2 separate regions of the Homo sapiens genome follow, and region 1 is linked to region 2. The links come from fine-mapping of genetic effects on gene expression. A gene starts in region 2. The other region holds a variant in brackets. All regions are shown on one strand. Distances are from middle to middle. Region 1 overlaps ARMC7 (armadillo repeat containing 7). Region 2 holds the start of JPT1 (Jupiter microtubule associated homolog 1).

Region 1 (4,384 bases), 27 kb before region 2:
GGACTGAGGTTGGAGACTGCAATGAGTGCCAGGGAGAGGGAAGAACAGACAGGACGGCTCAGGGGTAAGGAGCACACGGACATCTGGAATTTACTCCACATGCAGTGGGATCCTTTAATAATGTTCCCCCAGCTGGGCACGGTGGCTCACACCCGTAATCCTAGCACTTTGGGAGGCCAAGATGGGTGGATCACCTGAGGTCAAGAGTTTAAGACCAGCCTGGCTAACATGGCGAAACCCTGTCTCTACTAAAAATACAAAAAAAAAATTAGCCAGGTGTGGTGGCATGTACCTGTAATCCCAGCTACTTGGGAGGCTGAGGCAAGAGAATCACTTGAACCTGGTGGGGCGGAGGTTGCAGTGAGCCGAGATCGCGCCACTTCACTCCAGCCTGGGTGAAAGAGTGAAACTCCATCTCAAAAATAAAAAAGGTTCCCTCAAAGCAGGACCAGCCTGACCCAGGTGCTGCTTGGGAGCAGGCAGCAGAGTGAAACCTTGGCAGACTCCTGCCCCAGTCAGTGGAGGAGGGTCCTTGGCGGGGGCACCATGGGCACCTGTCCCTCTGGCTGGGGAAGATGTCTTAGTTGGGTTTCAGGTTCAGGTAAGTCTTCTCTTTGTTAGTTTCCAGAAAAACAGGGGAAGTGGGTAGAGCTGTGGCCTTCACTGATTGGTCACTCAGGACACTGGGCATGTTTTGCAAATGAGCTGAGAGGTGGCTTCCTCCACTGAGCAGGAACCAAAGGGAGGGGTACCGTGATGACAGGAAGCTCAGGATGCACAGGAAGTCATCTTCCCGCAGGGAGCAGCCAGTGCTGAGCAGAGTGACCTCCAAAACAAGGTAGCATCTGTCCCCAAGGCTAAGAGGTCATTACATTGAGGGGGCCTGACTTGAGGGAATGGGAGTGGGATTCCAGCCACATTACCTGAGCACGTGAGTTCTTTGATCCAGAACCACTGATCTGTCACTGTTGCCTTTTCTGTTTTCCCCCAGAATCCTAGTAACGGTGACATGGAAATAACATTAAAATGCTCTATTCTCTTAATTACACTATATCTGTCAAATGGTACACTCCTTACCATTAATCTACAATCACTGCATAGCCATGAATGTGAATTTATTGGCATGGAAAGATGTTCACAATACATTGTTTTTTTGTTTTTGTTTTTTTTTTTTGAGATGGAGTTTCACTCGTTTGCTCAGGCTGGAGTGCAATGGCGCAATCTCAGCTCATTGCAACCTCAGCCTCCTGGGTTCAAGCAACTCTCCTGCCTAAGCCTCCCTAGTAGCTGGGACTATAGGTGTGCTCAACCATGCCCCGCTAATCACAATATATTGGTAAATGAAAAAAGCTGGGCGGGGCACAGTGGCTCATGCCTGTAATCCCAGCACTTTGGGAGGCCGAGGCGGGTGGAACACCTGAGGTCAGGAGTTCGAGACCAGCCTGGCCAACATGGTGAAACCCCGTCTCTACTAAAAATACAAAAATTTAGCCGGGCATGGTGGCACATGCCGGTTATCCCAGCTACTTGGGAGGCTGAGGCAGGAGAATCACTTGAACCCGGGAGGCGGAGGTTGCAATGAGCCGCGATCATGCCACTGCACTCTAGCCTGGGCAACAGGGCAAAACTGTCTCAAAAAAAAAAAAAAAAAAAGCTGGCGTAAGCCATGCACAGTGGTGCATGCCTGGAGTCAGTCTTAACTCCCAGGGAGGCTGAGGCAGAAGGATGGCTTAAAGCCGGAAGTTCAAGACCAGACTGGACAACATAGGGAGATCCCACCCCATCTCAGAAAACTGACCAAGCAGCAAGCAGAGTATCCCATTTTTACTAAATACTTACATATATTCACATATTTCAAATTGTAGAATGAAAAACAAATGTTAGGTCAGCCGCCTAACATTGAGACGTAGTATTTGCTCTGTTGCCCAGGCTGGAATGCAGTGGTGCCATCTCGGCAACCTCCACCTACCGGGTTCAAGCTATTCTGCCTCAGCCTCCCAAGTAGCTGGGATTACAAGCATGTGCCACAGGCCCAGCTAATTTTTGTGTTTTTAGTAGAGACG[G/A]GGTTTCACCATGTTGGCCAGGCTGGTCTGGAACTCCTGACCTCAGGGTGATCCACCCACCTCGGCCTCCCAAAGTGCTGGGATTATAGGCGTGAGCCACCGCTCCCAGCCATTTGTTTGTTTTTGAGACAGGGTCTCACTCTGTCGCCCAGGCTGGAGTGCAGTGGTGCGTTCATGGCTTACTGCAGCTCCACTTCGTGGGCCCAAGCAGTCCTCCCACCTCAGCCTCTCAAGTAGCTGAGACTACAGGCGTGTACCATCATGCCTGGCTAATTGTGTGTGTTTTGGTAGCGACAGAGTTTTGCCATGTCGCCAAGGCTGGTCTCGAATTCCTGGGCTCAAGGGATCCTCCTGCCTTGGCCTGCCAAAGCACTGGAATTACAGGTGTGAGCCACTGTGCCCAGCCCATTCTAGTATTTTAACAGTTTTATTGCTATATGATGGACATAATAAACTGTACATATTTAAAGGGTACAATTTGATAAATTTTGGCATAAGTATATACCCATGAAACCATCATCTTATATTTTTATAACTTTTATAAACTGTTCTAAGGTGATGATACATTACAGGGTTTTAGTTTTTTATTTATTTATTTATTTCTGAGACAGAGTCTAGCTCTGTTGCCCAGGCTGGAGTGCAGTGATGCAATCTCGGCTCACTGCAACCTCCGAGTCCCAGGTTCAAGCAATTCTCCTGCCTCAGCCTCACAAGTAGCTGGGATTACAGGCACCTGCCACCACACCCGGCTAATTTTTGTATTTTTAGTAGAGACAGTTTCACCATGTTGGCCAGGCTGGTCTCGGACTCGTGACCTCAGGTGATCCACTCACTTCAGCCTTCCAAAGTGCTGGGATTACAGGCGTGAACCACCGTGCCCGGGCCGGCCTTGTTTTAGGTTTTTACATTTAAGAAAGGGGAAAAAAAAAGCGTATCAGCCATTGAACTTGCTGAACTGAGAGGGAAAGGGATTTGTGCCCACTTCTGGAAGGGTGGGCTGTGGCAGGCTGGAGCAGGCAGGCAGGCCTTTCTGGAAACTTGAGAAGGCAGGAGCCGGAATGGGCTTTGGATGCCTTGTGCTGGGGCCAGCTTCTCAACAGCCTGGGCCCCTACCTGGGGCTCACGGGCAGGGGAGGTGGGAGGAGGCCCGGGGCTACAGCATCCAGACTCTTCCTTGCTCTCCCACAGGAGGCCTGTGCAACCTGTGCCCAGACAGGGCCAACAAGGAGCACATCCTGCACGCAGGAGGTGTCCCACTCATCATCAACTGCCTATCCAGCCCCAATGAGGAGACGGTGCTGTCTGCCATCACCACGCTCATGCACCTGAGCCCGCCGGGCCGCAGCTTTCTCCCAGAGCTGACCGCCACGCCCGTGGTGCAGTGCATGCTTCGCTTCTCCCTCTCGGCCAGCGCCAGGCTCCGGAACCTGGCACAGATCTTCCTGGAGGACTTCTGCTCCCCCCGCCAGGTGGCCGAGGCCCGCAGCCGGCAGGCGCACTCTGCCCTGGGTATCCCACTGCCGAGGAGCGTGGCCCCACGGCAGCGCTGATCCATGGAGACTGCGAGACCGTGGCACCCCTACTGCTGGAGACCACAGTCCTGATGTGGACGCAGGGAACGGGGAGCACATACTGCCCCATTGGTGCCTTTTCAGCCATCTGAAAGGCGGGTTCTTTCAGCAGGACAGGCATTTACACTGATGAAACGCCACTGGGAGTGAGGAAGCCAGACTCCAGAGACACGGAGAAGATCAAACTGGAGCTGCGTTCATAGGCTGGCACTCTCAATCCTACATCAGGTGCCACCACCACCAGACTCAGGCCCTGGTGTAAGAAGCGGCCAAGTGCCTGGACCCAGAGGCTTTGCAGGACAGTGTTCTCAGGAGCTGGGCCTGAGGCTTAGGAGAGCTGCCTTCGCTGCAGGAAATCAGGGATTATCCCTTAACAGAAGTGTCTGGAGTAGTTTTCAGGTATAGGAATGAGATGCCTCGTGGTGAAAGGATCTCACCCTGGGAAGATGTGGTGCCCCCTCCAGGGCTCTGGAGGATGGATGCCTCCCCCAGGGGCTCTCCAAGCTGGGCATTTGGGCCTGGTGGATGCCAACCTGGATAACCTGTGGCCCAGCATTGACTGTCCACCCAGCCTTGCTGTTAGGCACCATGACTCCAAGATGAAGATGTGGTCCCTGCCCTTGAGTGACAGCCCAGGGACTTAATGTGGCCATCGGGCATCAAGCACAAGGCCATGCAGGTGATGATACGTCGGAATAGAGGCACCAGCCCTGGTAACTGCATCTTCTCCCCTTGCCACCCCATGGCCCC
Region 2 (4,384 bases):
CTAAATCAGGATTATATATTTAAGACTGAACAAAAATGTGTCCATGTACTGTAAATAGCAATTTTTAAAAAATTGCTCCTTTTCTTTCTTCTCTCTTAAAATCCTGAAGTTTCTGTATATCTTTGCAGATCATTCCCTACCAGACTAAATTTATAACGAGTTTATGGGGCCAGGAGAACATTACTGGACAAAATTAAGTTTATGAGAATTAGGTGAGAATATAGAAAAAGGGAAGGTAGAGAGACAATAAAATGACAATGCTACTACAGTCCCTAGAGCATAATATTGGAGGGAAATTGATGACGAAAGGTGAATTAAACATTCATTTCACAGGATCAGAACTCATTTGTCTCACATTTCAAATGTACACATGAAAAACTAAGTGTGAGGATTCATTTGACCTAATTACTGAAATTCTTTACAAAACACTAATATCAACTCAACCCCAAAGAATAAAACCCCAGATTACACATTATCATTCCGACGACTGAAGTCTAACCGGCAGAAAGTTGGCCTCGTAACACAAAATGAAAAACCAAGGCTCAATCTCTTCCTGTTCTCTGAAGAAATCATCTCATTGGAAAGAAAACAGAAAGGGAGCGACCAGTTTCCTAGGTCTGTGCTACTTAAGTACCCCATCCTCCCAGTAATCACCAATTTATTTTTTTAATCTTACCTAGTCTTTTTGACCTTGTAAACCTGAAAGTATTGAGTTGTAAAGGAATGTCATTTCCCATGCTTTCCTCCTAAGGCTCAATTGCTGAGTGAGGCGTGCTTTTTGTTCCCAAGTTCTCTAACCCCTGTGAGATATGGCTATTTCACGTGTCTTCTTAGCCCCACAAAATGGCTCCCTTTGTGCCACTTGGCCAGGACCCCGAGGGTAGCCACACATGAATGCAGGTCATAATCGATGTAAAATACATGCTCAAAAAAGTGATTTAAGCTTCTTCCAAGCCTTGAAGAGGATCCCAGACATAACTGTAACCCACCTTAAAGAACAGTGTGCAATTAGCTGAGACAATGTGGACACCTTCCACAGAATCCAAACCCTTCCACCAAGTAAGTTAAGCAAGGACTTGGAAAAGGGTTCCTGTCCAAACACTGTACCCAGTGCCCCAAGCCCAAAAAGCAGTGGGAAGAAGGGCAAGAAAAATCCCCCGCTTCCCAGGTAGCGCTACCACGTTAGAGACAATGGATGTCTCCGGCCCCGCCCAAGAACAAGAAACCTCCTCCTGCAAGGGAACCAGGGCCAGGGATGAACTCACTGGGCAAACGTCAAAGGAGGAAGCGAAGGTAGGATGCAAAGGCCACGGTCCGAAGGTTTAAGCGCAGAAAACCCACTCGGGTTGGCTCGTTCCCCGCGCCCGCCCCCGCCCCCCGCCTTAGAAATGAGCGCAGGGATGGGGAGAAGGGGTCTTTCCTTTGTTAGGAAGGGGAGACACTTGGAAGAGGGGAGGCACTTCGAAGAGGGGAAGAACGATTGGGTCCTCAATGGGGGGTGAAGGGTCGCGATGACCAGCCCCGCTCGACCACACATGCACCTGTCAGGTAGGTCCGAATAAGGAGTGGGGGCACGGCGAGGGTAAGGAGCCCGCCGGACCTGATCGATCCGGTCTCCGGATCCAATGGCTGCGCGCGAGAGCGAGACCAACCGCATGCCACGGGGGAGAGACAGGAGCGCGTGGCCCATCAATGGGACAATAGGACCTGACCATGCATGGGGCCCTAAAGGATCCCCGGGCACCTGGGGGGCCAAGCCCACCACCCTGGGGATGCACCAGCCGGGATGCACACAGGAGAAAGCGAAGCCCTCCCCGAAGGTTCCGATTAACGAAAACCGGCCGTGCTCCGAGGGGCGACCAGCCCCGGCCTCCTCAGCCCCTGACTCCGTGGAAGGAATGAATGGAGAGCAGCAGGGACCCGGGTGGGGCCGGCGCGCAGGGCTCGCCAGGCGGCACAAAGGCGGCGCCGACGGCAGAACCCCGCCACCCGCCCCGGCGCGAGCACAGCGCACGGGGCTCGTTACCCGCAACGACCGGCGCGAGGCCCCGCCGGCAGCGGCCCTCCCAGCCCCTCAGCCCCGCGCGGCTCGGGCGCGACCCGGTCGCCTCACCGGGAGCTATTCCTGCTGTTGGGGTCGACTCCCTTGAAGGTGGTGGTTGTGGTCATGGCGCCGAGGAGCGAGGTAGGCTGGCGCCGGAGCAGAACGCTCAAAGGGTCGGACCCGAGGGGCGCTGGGAAACTCCACACCCAACAGCCGACCACCGCTGCAGGAGCCGCCGCTGCCGCCTGTCCGGCCGATCGACGCCTTTATAGGGTTTTCAACCCCCGCCCCCTAACCCGCCGGCATTGGCCGATTCAAATGAATTCTTTCATTCCTATTGGCTCTCTGGAGTGCCAAGCACCATGCGGCATTACGATGGGCTGTGGCGGCCACGGCTCAGCCTAAGCCCGCCCCCTTCCTGGACTGGGAAGGCCTTGGGACTCTCTCCCCTCCCCCACCCCAAAATCTCGGCGATGATTGGACGGAAGGCGAATCTACCTCGCGCTGGGTGGAAGTCGTGCTGGCTGTCACTGTAAAACGTTACCTGACAGAGGGGGAAGCTCTTTCTTGGGGAGTTACAACCTCGGCAAGCAGAAGGGAGATTTGTCACTGTTACTGTTCTCTCATTTGCTTTACTGATGGTGGGATAGTAAGGGCATCCTCCTTAAAGGATGAAAAGTACTGCAACAAGTTGACATTTATCTGTTGAATACCTACTGTGTGTCCCATTTAGAAACCTAATAGTCTCAAAGCAGCCGCACAATGAGTCAGCAACAGAGAGCGCACCAAGATGATCCCTTTTAAAAGGACTGGAAATTCCTTACATTTTAATGTTACTGTTTAGTTGTAATGGGTGGTGCATGTACTGGACCAAAATTACAGTCGCTCCTATTTGGGGGCCTATTCTAAGGCTGGTTAATGCCTGGCACCAGGAATGGACTCATTCCCTGCTACCAAGACTATGGAAGCAGCTCAGGCCTCTGCAGCTGTTTATAACCCTTAAGTCATGACTCTTCCACCTGTCTGGGTAAATCTATCCATGCGACAAATGCAGACACACTTGGAGGATTCAGGAATGATGGTTTACAAGATCATAATAGGAAAGCCTTGGGCAAAAGAGGGCAGGCCCTTCTCATGTCTTGCATATTTCCTCAAGGCAGATGTCTTTGCTTGTCTCAATATTTCCATAATAATTGAACCACATTCCTCTTTGCAAAGCCACCTTTCAGGTAGTTGGAAGTTTGTATTCTGGGCAGTCTAGGTTAACCACCCTCCCCCCCCGGGCTTTCATGAAAAGCCAGTGAGAAGTTCTGTTCTAGAAAGCACGGATGATGCATTTATGTGCTTACCACAACAGCACGAAGCGCACCACTTGTTTGTGTTAGAATCTTCCCTTCTTTTTTTCCTTTCTTTTTTTTTTTTGTTTTTGAAGTGGAGTTTCGCTCTTGTCACCCAGGCTAGAGTGCAATGGCGCTCAATGCAACCTCCACCTCCCAGGTTCAAGCGATTCTCCTGCCTCAGCCTCCGTAATAGCTGGAACTACAGGCGTGCGCCACCACCCCTGACTAATTTTTGTATTTTTAGTAGAGACGGCGTTTCACCATATTGGCCAGGCTGGTCTCAAACTCCTGACCTCAGGTGATCCATGCTCCTTGGCCTCCCAAAGTGCTGGGATTACAGGTGTAAGCCACCGCATCTAGCCAAAATCTTAGCTTTTTTTTTTTTTTTTTGAGACAGAGTCTTGCTCTGTCGCCCAGGCTGGAGTGCAGTGGTGGCGCGATCTCTGCTCACTTGCAGCCTCCACCTCCCGGGTTCAAGCGATTCTCCTGCCTCAGCCTCCCGAGTAGCTAGGACTACAGGTGCGTGCCATCATGCCCGGCTAATTTTTTGTAGTTTATTAGTAGAGATGGAGTTTCACCATGTTAGCCAGCATGGTCTCAATCTCCTGACCTCGTGATCCACCCACCTTGGCTTCCCAAAGTGCTGGGATTACAGGTGTGAACCACCGCACGCCCAGCCAATCTTCCCATTCTTTCTTTTTTTGTTGTTGTTGTTTTCGTTTTTTTGAGACAGAGTCTCGCTCTGTCGCCCAGGCTGGAGTGCGGTGGCATAATCTCGGTTCACTGCAAGCTCCGCCTCCCGGGTTCACGCCATTCTCCTGCCTCAGCCTCCCAAGTAGCTGGGACTACAGGCGCCCACCACCATGCCTGGCTAATTTTTGTATTTTTAGTAGAGATGGGGTTTCACCGTGTTAGCCAGGATGGTCTAGATCTCCTGACCTCGTGATCCGCCCACCTCGGCCTACCAAAGTGCTGGGATTACAGCATGAGCCACCGCACC

The links. PIP is the estimated chance that this variant, and not a neighbour inherited with it, causes the effect.
Region 1: its variant is the best candidate, but not a certain one, in a credible set for the expression of JPT1 in whole blood (TOPMed, PIP 0.65).

Annotation. Positions count from the first base shown.
Region 1 is chr17:75,125,426-75,129,809 of GRCh38, forward strand. It overlaps ARMC7 (armadillo repeat containing 7), which reads left to right. Exons shown (of 3, transcript NM_024585.4): 3 at 3,252-4,384. The coding sequence ends at 3,613. Among named protein-coding and RNA genes, the nearest start is that of NT5C, 4.1 kb to the right of the region's middle. The variant G/A (reference allele first, on the strand shown) is at 2,064.
Region 2 is chr17:75,152,229-75,156,612 of GRCh38, forward strand. It overlaps JPT1 (Jupiter microtubule associated homolog 1), which reads right to left and starts at 2,284. Exons shown (of 5, transcript NM_016185.4): 1 at 2,114-2,284. The coding sequence starts at 2,169. RefSeq lists a silencer at 1,880-2,119 and an enhancer at 2,772-3,367.